Homo sapiens: one gene and its partners. The protein of the gene in region 2 interacts with the protein of the main gene of each other region in a pairwise test. Each region holds a gene or a part of one and is shown on either strand. Other genes may lie near its edges.

The links. The genes of interacting proteins can lie anywhere in the genome.
Region 1: the proteins of SLC35E4 (region 2) and CNR2 interact in binary tests that used the Homo sapiens proteins (3 or more experiments, as listed by UniProt).
Region 3: the proteins of SLC35E4 (region 2) and GPR101 interact in binary tests that used the Homo sapiens proteins (3 or more experiments, as listed by UniProt).

Annotation. Positions count from the first base shown.
Region 1 is NC_000001.11:23,903,326-23,910,362, forward strand, and holds part of CNR2 (cannabinoid receptor 2), read right to left. Parts: intron 1-7,037. UniProt on the Homo sapiens protein: Heterotrimeric G protein-coupled receptor for endocannabinoid 2-arachidonoylglycerol mediating inhibition of adenylate cyclase. May function in inflammatory response, nociceptive transmission and bone homeostasis.
Region 2 is NC_000022.11:30,645,744-30,648,393, forward strand, and holds the end of SLC35E4 (solute carrier family 35 member E4), read left to right. Parts: intron 1-854; coding exon 855-1,288; 3' UTR 1,289-2,150; downstream 2,151-2,650. UniProt on the Homo sapiens protein: Putative transporter.
Region 3 is NC_000023.11:137,030,959-137,038,398, forward strand, and holds the start of GPR101 (probable G-protein coupled receptor 101), read right to left. Parts: upstream 3,038-7,440; 5' UTR 2,844-3,037; intron 809-2,843; 5' UTR 717-808; coding exon 1-716. UniProt on the Homo sapiens protein: Orphan receptor.

The DNA of each region.
Region 1 (7,037 bases), on a different chromosome or scaffold from region 2:
GCAATTTGGGAGGCTGAGGTGGGAGGAGCGGTTGGGCCCAGGAGTTCAAGACAAGCCTGGGCAACATAGGAAGACCCCGCCTCTACAAATAAAAAAAAATTAGCCAGGGGTAGTGGTTCATGCCTGTGGTCCCAGGCACTTGGGAGGCTGAGGTGGGAGGACCACTTGAGCCCAGGTGGTTGAAGCTACAGCTAGCCGTGATGTGCCACTGCACTCCAGCCTGGGTGACAGAGTGAGACCCCAGGCTTTGTCAAAAAAAAAAAAAAAAGCATTTCTTTTTAACGTGCGTCAGTAAGAAGGGCATGCCTAGGTTAACATATCAAAAGTGCTCCTCATAGTATCTGTGAAACAGCCTTGCAGAACCTAACCTGCCAGGCCATAAATGCAAGGGTGAAAATGGGATTGTGGGGAGCTTCACTTTAACAATAGCTAGTTGTGTAAAATGCAATTAATCCTCACAGTAAGTCAGGAAGGGTGGTCCTATTATCATCATCTCTGTTTTGCAGACAAGGAGACGGAGGCGCAAAGATGCAGTGACTTGTCTGAGGTTGCACAAAAGGGCAGAGCCCGATGTGAACCCAAACCTGTGCCCAGGTCTGCAACTGTCACAGGAGCCTGCCTCCTAGTTGCTCAGCTGGCTCCTGCGGCTTTCTCCCGGGGACTTCTCTCTAATCTTTCTGGGGGGCCCTTTGAAATGTTAAAAAATTGCATTTGGGCTCCCGATTTTCTGCTTTACCAGATTCCAGAGTTCACACTGCCTGAAGACAGGAATCTTAGCTTTGCCCCACTAGGGAGCTCCTTTGTGATCCAGGTGATGTCACTCAGAACTCTGGTTTTTTTGTTCGTTTCATTGTTTTTTTTTTTTTTTTTGGAGTCTCGCTCTGTCACCCAGGCTGGAGTGCAGTGGTGCGATCTCGGCTCACTACAACCTCTGCTTCCCGGGTTCAAGTGATTCTTCCGGCTCAGCCTCCCGAGTAGCTTGGGATTACAGGCGCCTGCCACCATGCCCAGCCAATTTTTTTGTATTTTTATTAGAGACAAGGCTTCACCATGTTGGCCAGGCTGGTCTCGAACTCCTGACCTCAGGTGATCGGCCTGGTGCTGCTTCCAAGTGCTGGGATTACAAGTGTGAGCCACTGCACCTAGCTAATCTTCATTTTTATAACAAGAACTAAAAGGCCTATCTCCCTCTTTCAAAGAAAGTCTACTACAGAAAATTATTTGATGCTCTGTGATATTACAGCATAAATGACTGATAAGCATGTGTGGATCTCTTTCACCCTGAGGGTAGCCTGTTACTGTGAAATCTGTCAGCCATCGGGAAGTATGCATTTGTCTGGGGGTGGGAGGAGCATTGTTAAAATCACACCTGGAAGTGGCCAGTCACCCATTCTGTCCATGAAGTGCTCTCTGTAGGAAAGGAAACTTTCATACAAAGTAAGGCATTATAACCAGGGAACAGAGAGGTCTGTCCCCTGATGATGAGGACTTTTCATGGTGGCTTCTCTCTAAAGCAGGAGTAAGACAGGGTTAACCACGTGGTGAACATTCTGAATCACCTGTGGTTTGCCTCCAGGCCACTCTACCTCTTCCTGGTTTGGCCAGATCCCAAAGGGTAGAGCCCCTACCCCAGCCATGATTCTGGTTTGCTTATAGGGTTGCATCAGTCGGGGGTTGAGGTTGCAATTCAGGCTGGTTCCCAGAACAGGGGAGTTTGTGAAGCGATGTGGAGAGCCATGGAGGCTCAGCTCTTGAAACACTCTGGTGATTATGACAATAGTAGCAACTAATACTGAAATTGCACCTACTGTATACCGTGTGTCAGGCACTATTCTCTGCACTTAACTTTTCTTTTCTTTTCTTTCTTTTTTTTTTTTTGAGATGAGTCTGGCCCTGTTGCCCAGGCTGGAGTGTAGTGCATCTCGGCTCACTGCAACCTCCGCCTCCCGGGTTCAATCGATTCTCTTGCCTCAGCTTCCCAAGTAGCTGGGATTACAGGTACCCGACACCACGCCAGCTAGCTTTTGTATTTTTAGTAGAGATGGGGTTTCACCATGTTGGCCAGGCTTGTCTCAAACTCCTGACCTCAGGTGATCCACCTGCCTTGGCCTCCCAAAGTTCTGGGATTACAGGCATGAGCCACCGCGCCCAGCCATCTTTGCACTTTATATATTATATATATTTATATATTAATTTATATATTCTACACAACAAATCCATGATGGGGGACTAGTATCACTCCTGTTCTGTAGTTGGGGAAACCAGCATCAGCAGAGAGGCTTGACTCATGGGGCTGATAAGATCTGTGAGTGGTGGCAAAGGGGCTGGAGGGGACAAAGGGACAAGCTGGGCAGAGGCTGATGGATGAATTAAACCTGGCATGAGGACTCAGGCCACGGAGAGACGAGGAACAGCCAGGGATAGGCCAGACATCTGGGGAGCTGATCCTCCTGTAAGTTCCTTCTACCTCTCTCTAATAGAATTAATTAAGGTGCATTTGTGCATCTGTTGGCTTTTGGTCCCTGGGACCATAACAAAGAACACATGTTGCAATCTCTGGCCTGGGATTTGGGATCTAGCGGGATCACGGGACACTCTATCAAGCCAATCTCAGGCCTCGGGAGCCAAACTTGCAAGGTGGCCTGGATTTCTAGTTCCTGTTCCTGTTCTGTGTAAAAGAGATTCTCAGTTGGTTCTGAACACAGATTCTCAGTTGGTCCTGAACTTACCCTCGGAACCAACTGAGAATAAGGAGGAAATAGGTAGACAGAGGCAGCCTGAGTCATAGTTGTGATTCTGATTCTGCTCCCACTCTGATGTTTTTTGGAGAACTAGGCTTAAGCTGTCTTCCCCCCTCAGACTCTCTAGCAGTGGGACTCCAGGCCCACACCACTGTACCCACCTCCTGCCCCTTATTAAAGCTGTGTTCTCTCGTGCAAATTACGTCGTCTCCTTGAGCCCCACTGTCCTTGTCTGTAAAATGGGAATAATGAAAATACCTCCACTCAGGACTGTTGTGAGGATTAAACAGTATGTATGGGACATAGAAAACTTAATTTTACAAACCCCAGTGGAAACTACTCGAGCCATTTCATAATTTTCTATGGCCCATGAAAAAGGAAGTGATTTTAAATAAAATGTACTATTTACAATAAGTGTATTGTTTAAAATTTTTCTCTAACTTTTTTTTTTTGTTTTCCTATCTTTCTTTTTTTTCTTTCTTTTTTTTTTTTTAGAGATGGAGTTTTGCCACGTTGCCCACGTTGGTCTTGAACTCCTGAGCTCAAGTGATCCACCTTGAGCTTCAGCACTTCCCAAAGTGCTGGGATTACAGGCGTGAGCCACCGCACCCGGCCAATTCATACTTCTTAAAAGTAATTTTATGTTTGCTATATGATAAGATAAAATAGGTTTCATTTAGCTGGGAGTGGTGGCATGTGCCTGTAGTCTCAGCTACTTGACAGACTCAGATGAGAGGATGACTTGAATCTAGGAGGTCAAGGCTGCAGTGAGCCATGATTGCACCACTGCACTCCAGCCTGGGTGACAAAGTGAGACTCTGTGTCAAAAAAAAAAAAAAGAAAAAATATGTCTCAGGCCCCTATTTGCATGCCTCTCTGTATATGCCTTGCAGGTGTAGATCTCTTTTATACCCAGTACAGGAAAAGACAGAATACATCTTTCTCTCTTCTTACCAACCTTTGAAATGTTGTGAAGTAGTAGGATTTCTCTAATATGCCATATAAGAAAGTTGATCAGATAAATGTAATTTATGAATCTTGAAGCAGGCCGGGCATGGTGGCACACTCCTGTAATCCCAGCACTTTAGGAGAGCAAGGTGGGCGGATCACCTGAGGTCAGGAATTCGGGACCAGCCTGGCCAACATGGTGAAACCCTATCTCTACTAAAAATACAAAAAAATTAGCCGGGCGTGTGGCATGCACCTGTAATCCCAGCTACATGGGAGGCTGAGGCAGGATAATCGCTTGAACCTGGGAGGTGGAGGTTGGGACGTGGAGGTTGCAGTGAGCCGAGATCGCGCCACTATGCTCCAGCCTGGTGACAGAGGGAGACCTTGTCTCAAAAAAAAAAAAAAAAAACAAGAGAAAAAAGAAGAATCTTGAAGCAAATCTGCAGAGGAGTTAACACCATCATTTCCTTGTATTTTCTTTTCTTTTTTTTGAGGTGGAGTCTTGCTTTGTTGCCCGGGCTGAAGTGCAGTGGCGTGATCTCGGCTCACTGCAACCTCTGCCGCCCGGGTTCAAGCAGTTCTCCAGCCTCAGACTCCCAAGTAGCTGGGATTACAGGCGTGTGCCACCACACCTGGCTAATTTTTGTATTTTTTAAGTAGAGATGAGGTTTCACCATGTTGGCCAGGCTGGTCTCAAACTCCTGGCCTCAAGTGATCCACCCACCTCAGCCTCCCAAAGTTCTGAGATTACAGGCGTGAGCTACCGTACCCAGCTTCCTTGTATTTTTGATATCAGTTTCTTATGCTGTCTTTAATCATTGGCTCAGTAAGGGTATAAATTAAATGATATCAGATTAAGAGCAAAAACGATGTAAAGCCATATATCAGCCAAAGCTGTAGCTGAATGATTAATTGCCTGGTTGTGAGTCATGAGCTAGTTTGTTCTATCACCACTAACTACTGCTTTTTTTTTTTTTTTTTTTTTTTGAGATGGAGTCTCCCTCTGTTACCAGGCTGCAGTGGCGTGATCTTGGCTCACTGCAACCTCCGGCTCTCTGGTTCAAGCAATTCTCCTGCCTCAGCCTCCTGAGTAGCTGGGATTACAGGCACATGCCACTATGCCCGGCTAATTTTTGTATTTTTAGTAGAGACGGGGTTTCACCATGTTGGCCAGCATGGTCTCGATATCCTGACCTCATGATCTGCCCACCTGGGCCTCCCAAAGTGCTGGGATTACAGGCATGAGCCACCGTGCCTGGCCAACTATCGCTTTTTAAATATTTATTTTATTTTTGAGATAGGGATCTTGCTCTGTCACCCAGGCTAGAGTGCAGTAGCACAATCTCGGCTCACTGCAGCCTTGAATTCCTGGGCTCAAGCGATGCCTGGCTATACCTGCCAGATTTGATTCTTCCACTTATCCTAGGAAGATCTCACATTGAGAAAAAATCTTTTAACTATTACAATAATTATTCACTAATTTTTAAAAAAATGGAAACAGGCATCAAGACCTTCTAATGATGTGAACCTTCTGGAACATCTCCCTCCCTAGTGGGAAAAGCTGGTAGAAAGTAGTGGGAAGACAGACTTGGGTTTGACTCCTGTCTCTGCCTGTTGTGTCTCAGCCTTAGTGGCTTCATCTGTCAAATGGGCCCATTGGAAGGGAGGGAGGGCTACAGAAGGTCAGTGAAGCACCCTCTGGCTCCTTCCTTGCTCTCAGTGGGCTCTATTCCCCAGCTTCCAGCTCCATCAGATTTTCCAGGACCCAAACAGACCCAGGGAGAGACACAGAGGACGAACTCAATGAATTTGGGCTGAGGCAACACTGTGAACGCAGCTGTGGCTCTCAAAGAGGAACTTAGGGGTTGCCTCAACCTCTAGGGAGGCAAGGGAGCCTCTGAGAGACAGGTGGGGTGGTGGGGGTGAGGGAGTGGGAAAAGCTGCCTTTGACTCACTGTATGAGCAGGAGATCAGAGACCTCCTCTCTGGGCAGTGGAAGCAGGTGGGGGAGGGGAGGAGAAGCCGTGAAGCTCACCGGACACCGAACCACGAAGTCCCCTCTGCTCATGGGCTCACCCACATCCTCCCCGACTGGATGGGGCCCCAGCAGCCTTCACTCCCTCGCCTGCTGGGGAATCCTTCCCTCCCTGCTTGGCCCTAACTCCACTATGCAGTTCCTCCCCCATTAATCTGGCCTTGTCTGTCATTTTCTCTCCTTGGCATTTGAGGTCTTTGCTGCATGGCGTGAGGACTGAGTACATCCTTTCTCTCCCCAGGAGATGGAGGGAAAAGAGAACAGTTTTACACTGTTCTGGGTTCTGCTGGAAGAAGGCTGAGACCTGATCTTACTCTTCTGGTGGTCCCTGCAGCATAGCTGGGGACCGAGAGCCTTGGCTGTGCGTGGGTTCCCACTCTGCCCTCTCCCGAGACTTCAGTGTCCTCATTTATAGCTTGGGGAGAGAAAGAGAATTGCCTTTACAGGACCGAGGTGAGGATTACATAAGATAATGCCTAAGCACAGTCAGGGAAGGTCTGTCAGAGATCATCATGGAAACAGGAAGTCACCTGGGCCAAGGGCTAGAGCCTCAGGGTCTTGGCACAGAGTAGACACCTCACAAGACTGGATTGGACTGCTCAGTTTGGGGTGGGAGGAGAGAAGCCGGCCATATTCATATGATATCCCTCCAATTTCCTCCCCAGCGCAGGTTCTCGGGTTGTCCATGTGATGGCATCTGAAACGCAGCCTGGCGAGCGACACAGTAAAGACAACCCTGATCATGAGTCCCCGAGCCTGCCCTGCATCTCCATACCTAGAGGCATTTCCACTCCCGTTCTCCTATTTTGATTCCCACCACAATATGGCTTGGTTCTGGATCCAGATTGACCTGGACTTGAGTCTCAGCTTTGCCATTACCACCAGTTATGGGACTGTGGACAAGTCTCTCTCCTTCTTTTTTTTTTTTTTGAAACAGTATCTTGCTCAGTTACCCAGGCAATAATAGCTCACTGCAGCCTCAATCTCCCAGGCTTAAACAATCCTTCCACCTCAGCCCCCTGAGTAGCTGGGACCACAGGCATGTGCCACCATGCCTGGCTAATTTTTAATTTTTTTTTTTTTTTTTTTGTAGAGATAGGGTCTCACTATGTTTCCTAGACTGGTCTTGAAGTGCTGAGCTCAAGCTATCCTCCTGCCTGGGCCTCCCAAAGTGCCAAGCTTACAGGTATGAGCCACCATGCCCGGCCCCTTGGATAAGTCTTAAGCTTGTGTGAGCTTCAGTTTCTCACCTTGCAAATGTGGTTAGTGATAGCAGCCCCCTCCTAGGCTGTGGTGAGGACTTAATGAGG
Region 2 (2,650 bases):
CTGGGCTCAAGTGATCCTCCTGCCTCAGCCTCTCAAAGTGCTGGGATTACAGGCATAAGCCACTGTACCTGACCGATTTTTTTTTTTTTTTTTTTAAGACAGGGTCTCGCTCTGTTGCCCAGGCTGGAGTGCAGTGGTGCAATTTTGGCTCACTGCAACCTCCACCTCCTGAGCTCAAGATCCTCCTGCCTCAGCCTCCTGAGTAGCTGGGACTAAAGGCACGTGCCACCACTCCCAGCTAATATTTGTATTGTGTAGAGGCAGGGTTTTATCACGTTGCCCGGGCAGGTCTCAAACTCCTGGGCTCAAGCGATCCGCCCTCCCAAAGTGCTGGGATTACAGGCATGAGCCACCACACCCAGCCTTTGTAATGTTTTTTGAGCCACTTAGTCTTCATGCTTATTGATCATTTAGATATCCCAAGCATATCATTGTTTCAGCTCGTGGGAGGCAGTTTGAAGTGGCTGATAACAGACTTATTTATTTTAGTTTAGTTTTTTATATTTACTGAGCATTTCCCATTTAAGGGCTTTATGTATGCCGTCTTTTAAAATGTTTACAACAACCCGTGATTAGGTTTTATTATTACCCAACTCTCCAGGTGAGGAAACTCAGGCTTACGGAGGTTAAGTGCCTCTCATGAGCCCAGGTCACAGCTACTCAGGGGTGGACACAGGTCACAAACCCAGGTGGTCTGACTCCAACTCTTGACTGTCATGTTTCAGATCAGGAGCCACTAGCCCTGCCCGAGGGGTCCGGGTAGGCTTCTTGGAGGATCGGCCATAGGGGTCATACTGGGGTGGCTGGAGGGGGTTGTGTCCTTCTGGGTGCTCATGGCGGTTGTCCTGTTGCAGGTGCCCTGCTGCAGGAGGAGAGGCTGGACGCGGTGACCCTGCTTTACGCCACCTCGCTGCCCAGCTTCTGCCTGCTGGCGGGTGCAGCCCTGGTGCTGGAGGCTGGCGTTGCCCCACCGCCCACTGCTGGCGACTCTCGCCTCTGGGCCTGCATCCTGCTCAGCTGCCTCCTGTCTGTTCTCTATAACCTGGCCAGCTTCTCCCTGCTGGCCCTCACCTCTGCCCTCACCGTCCACGTCCTGGGCAACCTCACCGTGGTGGGCAACCTCATCCTGTCCCGGCTGTTGTTTGGCAGCCGCCTCAGTGCCCTCAGCTACGTGGGCATCGCACTCACTCTTTCAGGAATGTTCCTTTACCACAACTGCGAGTTCGTGGCCTCCTGGGCTGCCCGTCGGGGGCTGTGGCGGAGGGACCAGCCCAGCAAGGGTCTTTGAGACCTGGGGGATCTCAGGAGCCACCTGGGATGGCCCTGGCCTGAATCCAGCCTCCGCTGTGGCCATAGAAGGAATGGAGAACAGGGCTGGGCATGGTGGCTCACGCCTATAATCCCAGCACTTCCAGAGTCCGAGGTGGGTGGATCACCTGAGGCCAGGAGTTCGAGACCAGCCTGGCTAACATGGCAAAACCTCATCTCTACTAAAAATAGAAAAATTAGCTGGGCATGGTGGCGCGTGCCTATAGTCCCAGCTACATGGGAGGCTAAGGTGGGAGGATCACTTGAGCCCTGGAGATCGAGGCTGCAGTAAGCCAAGATCGCATGCTACTGCACTCCAGCCTGGGAGACAGAGCGAGACGCTGTCTCAATTAAAAAAAAAAAAAAGTGGAGAACTGGCAGTGACCTCTACTGGGGGCCATGGCAGGGAGGGGAGCCTTCTGGAAGGGCTGCCTTGGAGATTGGAATGGGGACTCCCAGGGAGACCTGCGTTCCATCCCTGCCTGCCTCACCCCTGCCACAGACTCTGCACACCACTGGATGGTGGGTCCAAGCCTGGCACAGTCCCTGTGCTTGTCAGAGTCATTATTATGATTAATATCAATTACGATGCCAAAAATTGCTGGGCAAACTTTGAAGACCTCAACTTGTTACAATGACGATGATGATGATTCTTGGCGGTTACACAATCCTTCCTCCTGGGGGGGAGGCAGCTAGGAGGCCCAGCAGGGGGGCTTCTATGCTGCTGGGCTCCCCTAGGGAGTTGGGGTAGTCTGTGCCAACTCCAGGCAGCTGCTGTGGCCTCACCCCTGGGCCCCCCAATTTTGGGTCATCCATCCTCAAATACACTATTTTTGCTTGTATGCCTGTGTCATTTGTTGGTTGTACAGAGGGGATATAGGGAGAGTGGTAGGCTTCCCACACAGAAACTAGGACATCCTCCCTTACCCATCGCAGTCTGTCTGGCCCCCCACCCCGAGCCCAGTGCCATTCCCTCAAATCCCTCCACTGGCTGGGCTACCATTGCCCATCTTCTGGACAGTGGCAGTGGCCTCCCCCTTGCTCTGCCTGGCCCCTCTACTCCATCTTACACACAGACCCCTTCACCCAGAGGGATCTCACTAAAACGTGCACATTCTGATGTTCCTCACTGCTCTTGGGACAAAGTCAGAATTTCCTACCCCAGACCCCAACTCACTCAGGACGTGGCACCTGCAGCCTCACCCAGCTTGTCTCCCTTCCCCTGGGCTCTGCCTTCCAGCCTCACCGACTTCTTTCAGTTCCCCGTGATACCAGGCCTGCTCACTGAAACCTTTGTACATGCTGTTCCCTCCGTCCAGTCCCCGCTTCCTACAACAACCTC
Region 3 (7,440 bases), on a different chromosome or scaffold from region 2:
TTGACTCGCACTTCCAAGCTGTGTCTCTTGACATTGTACAGCAGAGCATGCTGCCTCCGGGCTGCACAGAACACCACGGAGTAGCAGGCAATCATGACAATCAGTGGAATGACGATGAAGGACACCACGCTGAGAATAGTGTAGCTGGGGCTGGCCCCCCAGATCATGGAGCAGAGAGCATTGCGCTCATCAAAGGCAGCCTGGCCCCAGCCGTAGAGTGGAGGAGTGCTCTGCAGGATGGCCACAATCCAGGTGCCATAGAGGAGCAGGTAACCGCGGCGCTGGGTCATCTTGGACGGGTAGGAGAGAGGGTGGATGATGGACAAGTAGCGATCCACTGACACCACGACAATGGTGTTGACGCTGGCGAAGGCGAACAGGTGGGTGAGGCTAACCAGGGCCGTGCAGAAGTGGCTGTTGAGGGGCCAGAAGAGAGGCACAGAGGTGGCCACCACCCAGGGGGCCACGAGCGAAATCTGCAGCAGGTCGGTGACGAGGAGGTTAAAGATAAAACGGTTGGTCACCTGCAGCAGCTGCGGCTTGCGCTGCAACACTAGCGCCAGCACTATGTTGCCGACGAAAGAGGCGGCGAGGAAGATAACCAGCACGGTTGAGCGGATGATGCCGTGGGCCAGGCTGATGGGCATTTTGGAGAGGGGCATGCACGTGTGGCTGCTGTTACTCTCGCGCGTGCTGTTGGTGCAGGTGGACGTCATGGCAACAGCCAGAGGGCGTGAGACAGGTTGCAGGCTCAGTGCCGGCACCGGTGGGTGGCAAAGGGGTGCACAGACCGCACTCAGTGCCTATGCTGGTGACAAAAGAAACACGCAGGCAGAGTTAGTCACCCGTCAAGGGGAGAAGCCTCCGCGCCCAGCAAGGACGCTGCAGGACCCCCTACCCCGGGTTTCCGCACGGCTCCATCCCCAGTGCGGGCAGCTTCTATGGCTCCTTTCCGGACTCTCCAGATCTGTCTGCCTGTCTCTCTCCAGGGCTCTGATTTCCTCTCATCTGTTTCTCCTGCTGGCGCGTGCGTGCGTGCGCTTTCTCTGCTTGTCTCTCACACTGTCTCTGGCTCCGGGGAGTTTTGGTCGCTAGCGCTAGCGCATGCGCGTGCGCTCTCTGTTTCTGTCTGTTTACGACCGTCAGTTTCTGTCTCTTCTCCAGTGTCTCTCGCTAGCGCACTTTTTTTCTTTATCTCTCGGGTTGTGTGTCTGTATGTGTCTCACCGTTTCCTGATTCTTTCTCATCCTTGTCTCTCACTTATGTCTGTCTCTGTTTCTCCGTCTCTCGATAGCACGTGCACGCTGTCTCTTTCCTGTTACTCTCATTTATCTCTTCCACTCTGTTTGTCACTCAGTCTCTCTGTGTGTGTCTCTTTCGCTAGCGCACTTTCTCTGCAGGGCTTGCGCTCTCGCTCCCTATCTTTCTCACAGTCTTGCCCGTCTCTCCCTCAGTCTCTTTCTGATCCATTCTGTCTCTCTGTGTCTCTGCCTGTCACTGTGTCGCTCGCTAGTTCATGTGTGTCTCCGTCTTTCCCTAGTGCTCTCTTGTCTCTCCATTTCTCTCTCAGTCTATTTCCCCAGCAGTTCATCTTTGTGGGTCCCTAGCGCACCTGTTCAATGTCGTTCGCTGTGTCTCTGCCCGTCTCCGTGTCTCTCCAACTCTCTTGTTTCTGCGTCTCCCTCGGGTTCTCTGGGTGTCTCCTTCTGTCTCTCACTGGCACGTGTGCGCTTGCTCTGTCTTTCTCGGACCCTCTTGTCTCTGTGTCTCTCCGTGTGGTTTCTGTCTCTCCCTGCCTAAGTTCTCTCTGCATTACTCTGCCTCTCTCTCCATTGATCTCTAACACTCTACTGCTTGTCTCACCTGTCTCTCAAGCTATCTCTTTAGTGTGTGCACTCTCTCGTTGGTTTCTCTGTCCTTCACTTTCCTGTCACCCCAGGACTCTGGCTAAACACTTGCTTTGTATCTTTGAGTGTGTGCGCATCTCTATTTCTCTACATCTTTTTCCCATGGCCCCTCACCTTGGTTTTTCTCTGGCTGGATCTCTGTCTCTTTGGATCTCTGTCTCCCTGTGGACTTTATTTTGCCGTGGAAACCACCTGCCGCCCCGGCCACCGCGGGCTTTGGTTAAAAAACCCTTAGTTTATCAGCAGTGCAATGGAGACTGGAAAATGCAGAGAGGATGCCTATTGAGCTCCCCTACCCTCACCCTCCACAGCCCCATCCCCATTCCCAATTTGGCATCCTCTTTGCTTTCTCCGGATCTGCTTGGTGTCGGTGACAGCCGAGGGGAGTGGGAAAGGAGCTGGGGAGAAAGGCAAAAGAGGCAGGGGTGCAGGGTGGTGGAGAGAGTCAGAAAGGCAGGGCGAGAGAGACTGAGAGGCAGAGAGACAAAAAGGAAATGAGAGACAGCGAAAGAATGAGATACATACAGAGAGACAGAGAGAATGTGAGCAACAGAGAGGGAGAAAGAAAGAAAAAAGAAGAAATGGGAGCGTGAGAGTGAGAGAGAATGAGAGAGCAAGACAGACTGGGAGAGACGCAGACAGAAAAAGCAAAAAATAATAAGAAAAGAGAACAAGCAGAGGAAGAGGGAAAGGATGAGGAAAAAACGAGAGAATGGAGAGGAAGGGGGAAAAGAACGCACGAGAAAAAGTGAGAGAGAAAACGCGAGGGCGGGAGGATGGCTAGGGAAAGGCGAGAAGGGGCCGCACCGCGGGCCACCGCGCCTGGTAGCTCAGCAGCCGTCGGGACGCTTCAGAGGGGGCGTCGTGGGCTCCCAGGCTCGGGGCCCTGCCGGGTGCTGGGGGCCACGGAGCCCGGAGTAGGGCCGGGCTGCTTACCTGTTGCTGCTGCAGACGTGGCGTCGCGGGCGCCGCGTGCAGGTCCTTCGGGGCTCCTCGCGCTCGTCCCGGCCGCCTCTCGGGGCTCGGGCGGCTGCGAGCTGGCACGGGGCAGCGGGCGCTGCGGGCGCGGCAGGAGCGGGGCACAGCGTCTGTGCCCGCACGTCCGGCCAGCGCGCCGCGCTGCAAGCTCTGAGAGGCAGCGGGGGCGCGCGGCGTCTTAAGGCAGCGCGGTGCCCTCACCTTGCGGTGCCGCCCTCCCCTCGGCCCCCGCCTGCGCCCGTGACGCACGAGGCCGCCGCAGCCCAGGGAGCGGGGCTGGCAGGTGGGGGGCCGTGCACCAGACCCCACTCAGATTTTCTCACTCCGGGTTCCCACCCCTGGGGCCCCGAGTCCACCGAGAGCTCACAGACTGGGGATTGTCACCGGGGCTGATTTTCGTGCAAACCCCGTGCCTTCCTAGCCCCCTGATTTCGGGCCAGCTCCCAGGCACAGACCCTGCACTATCCTTCCGATTCTTCCAAATAGGAGGGCCCGGGACTCCCCTCGACTTCTGAAAACCCTCCAAAGTATGAATAGCCCCTGAGCCCGAGAAAGGAATCGTGACTTTAATGTCAACGATTTTCCACGAATTTCTCTAGCTCCCAGGAAGAGCTAAGCGGCAGTGCTTTCCCTGTGGGATTTGGAAGCATTTCATTTAAGACAAGCCACATAATTACCCACTATATTCTTTGATTGAAGTATGTCTGTCTGTAAGTCAGTCAGCATCTCTCCCTCTCTCCCTCTTTCTCCCCCTCTCTCTGCCAGGTACTGTGTTAAACTGTTTACACAGAGAATACCGCTGAATCTTTACCCCAGCCTTGTGAGATAAGTACCGCTATTATCTTCATTTTATAGAGACAGAAGCAGAAGCCAAGAAAGATTACCCTACTTGCCTAAGTTCAAGTAAATATTGCACACGTTCTATTAGCCAAGACATTCTGGTCTCTCCTAAACACATACTGGGTATTTGTTGTATATCAGGACTGAGGAGGCCCCCTCTTCCCTGCCCCCAGAAGGTAGGGAAGGTGACCCAGACCAGGGATCATTTGCATTAGATTTCCAAGGGATTAGGAGGTGTTTTCTAGGCAGGGCACAAGGGGAAATGTGTTCTGTAAAAAGAAGATGCATGGGGTAAAACTAGGGCTGCAAGAGAGACTTGAGTTCCAAAGGCTGGGAAAACAGGCTGCAGCATGGTGAGTGCCAGGAGGTTAGCTGGTTAAACTGGGTAGAGACAAATCCTGAGGGGTCTTGAATGCCAGTCTGCAGACTTCGGACTTTACCCTGAGATCCCTGGAGGTCGTCGGAGAGTCGTTTTATTATGAAAGACTTCAAGCATACACAAACGTAATGAGAATAATAAAATAATCCTCCATGTTCCTATTACCCAGCCTTCACAAGGGTAAATAATTTGCCATTCTTGTTCATTGGTGGGTTTTAGGTAGGGCGATATTCTAAAATCAGGGCTGGTGTTGGATGGAGAAAGCTGAAGGGAGGCTGTGGCAGGAGACAAAGAGGGTCTTGACAGGTCCAACAGAGCGGGGCAAGCAGAGACCTACAGAGAGGCAAATTGACAGGGAATAAGGGCAAGGAGGTGTTGGGGAGGGTCTAGAATGAGCACAGGGTTTGGAGTTGGTTGATGGGCTGGATGGAGATACCTCCTCCCCTTCTCGTCACCTGCCTCTGAGACAGGGAGATGAGACAGGTGTATAATCGGGCCTCAAGAATGCTCTTTGGATCTGGAGTCCTGCATTTGCTCTTAGATCATTTGTCCTTTTTCTGCTATGCCTGATTTTATCTCCCCAAGGTTGAATGGTAAAAACCTGGTCATTTTTCCTAGAGACAGTTTCCGTGATAATCACTCACAGTTATTATTAATTCCTAGCTTCGTGCTGGCCATGGTACAGAATCCTGGGTGGCATGCACTGTCAAGCGGTAGTTTGTTCAGACTCAATGATTTTACAATCACTTGGGAGGCAGTGAAGCTGCTAGAAGTGGCCAGAGACAAAGGCCAGTCTTTCTTGACCTTTCCTATTTTTATTGTGGTTGTGACCATGCCCGAGACTGCTAGGTTCCAGCAGGGGACCCTCTAGACACATGTTAAAGATTGGTGCCTCAGAGGGATGGGCTCATGGAGTCTGCAGCTGCACTTTTGGGCACGAAGGGGGATAATAGGGAGTGGAAGGGGTTGGGTGGGATGAGGCCTCTGCAACTGAGACAAGCCTGCCAGCCGGAGATAGGAAAAAAGCCAGAGAAGTGCTAGGAAATAAATACCAGCTATTTTTCTGTATAGGGAGATGTTTGAGGGTGGTTAATCCTCCGGTGTCTTCTCTTTCCCTCCAGATGTGAGCAGAGTAGGTATTCTTGGATTTCAAAGACATCCAAATATCAGTTCCCCAACTGGAAGTATGTGGTGGAGCTTTGGGGAATGTGGATTTGGCTTCCAGCCCTGCAGGCTCTGATTCTGATAGCCTTGAAGGAGCCCTTCAACTGACAAGCCTCATTACATTCTGGGGAGAGTCTTTGGGATGAAACAGGGAGACTTTGGGATGATGGCTTAAGAAGTCACCTAGTCCTTTTCCCTACCTTCATAATTCAGTAGCAGCAGAGGCACGATCAAGCTGATGATATTAATGGACCAGGACTAGAGGGCAAGAAGCTACCAACAAGAAAGGGCCCAAGGTCCCATTGACAATCACACGTTGCAACACTGGTCAGTAGTGTGCCGGCCTCAGGCTTGTTCACCTTGTCAGACTAATTGCCCCAATTGCTGTACCAATAGCTAGATGAGGGAAGTTGGGAAACCCAAGACTCAGCCAAGTATTAGTTCTAGTCATTCATTCTAGTAATAAACGGTGCAAGAGTCCTTGAGTGCCTACTTTATGCTTGCTGTCTTGTATTAAATCCTTGAGGAAGCTCTGCAAGTTAGGAAACAATACCGTATTTTCTGAAAGCATGACACAGTACATACCACTAGGAAATGGAAAAATGCTGAACATTTAACCATCATACCATGGCTAACAAGATACATCTTGATTTCAAAGATGCTAGAATGTGAAAAAAAATGTGCTTTAGAATCAATGTAAGACAGTATCATCCCTGTCTTTACAGAGGGGTTAAGTAACTTATCCAAGGTCACACAGCAAATAAGTTTTGGAGCTGAGAGTTAAAGCCTACTCTAACTCCAAAGCAGGGGCATTTCCTAGGCTACATCAAGGAAGAGTGCAGAGACAAGACAGAAGGGCTCCCAGACCCAGCTCAGATAAAATTTTTGAATCTAGGTGAAAGGGGACTAGGAGTTGCTAGAATTGTGAAAAGACAAGTGCATTTGCAGTGGTAATGGTTTCTTTTTGTAGGACAGACACATGGTTCCCATAGGTGGTAAAAAGACTAAATCAGTCAATCTAAGTTCTAAGTCACACTCCTTTTTGCTTAGCGAGTTCATAATAAGTCGATGGGGAAAAATATATGGTTTTGTTCTGGAGTGCCTACCCATGGGGGTGTTTTACATTTTTCAGTGTTATGTGTTACTCTGGAATTCACTTCAGGCCAACTCCTAGAAGCTGTGTTTGCAAAACTGAAACAAAATCAAGTACCACCTGGGTGTGAGCTAATATTGCACATTCTGTGGGTTTGGGCAGTACAGAAGTTCTGGATTTCAAAGCTATGTCTATCCAAATAAACTAATTTGGAAGAGAAAATCAGCAGAAAATAACTTGATGGATTAAAACTAGAGAGCAGAAGACTTGAATTCTAGCCCTAATTCTGTGGCTAACTTGCATGTAACTTTGGGAAGATCCCCTTCCTCTCTCTGATCTCACTTCTGTAATCCACCAAATGAATGTGTGTGTGTGTGGTGGGGCTAGGGGTTGGATGTTAGGTAGTCTCTAAGGATCCTGTCAGTCTATGACCTTTGATGCCATCTACTTTCTATCTGAGTGTTATTTTTAAAAACCCAAAACTAATCTGACCCAAATATTAAAAAAATTGAAAGCTGGACTCTGCTTCTGGCCATGAAAGAATAAGAGACAGGATTTACCCTTTTATCTTAAACAACTAAAAAAGTGGACAACATACATAAAATAATAGTTGTTAGACATTGGAAAATAGACAGTACAGCACAGTGATCTTCAAGAAAAGAGAAACAAATGAGGTGAGCCCTACAATTGCCTCCGTTTACTACCTAGAGAGAATTTCCAGTCCTCTGTGCAGGAAGAAAGAATCCAGGCTGAGCCTGGAAGTCCGCCTAAATTTAGGAGACAAAGTTCAGAATTCAAGGAGGTGAGGGTGGGCAGAATTTGCAGAGCAAGGTGCCAGAGGGGCACTGCACAGAAAGAGTACTCCGGAACTCTGTAAAAGATTTCCCTCAAGGCTGAATACTGATCAGCACATGCATGTAAAGTATGCAAGGTTGGGATAGAACCACTCAAAAGGAGTAGGAGGAGTGATTTGTAGAGCTCACACAAGACTGGGAATAGCTCAGTTTCCCAGTAGTCAGAGAGAAGAGACTTCATAAGATACAGTGCATCAGACTAAGTGCTCAGAGGAGGATTGCCTC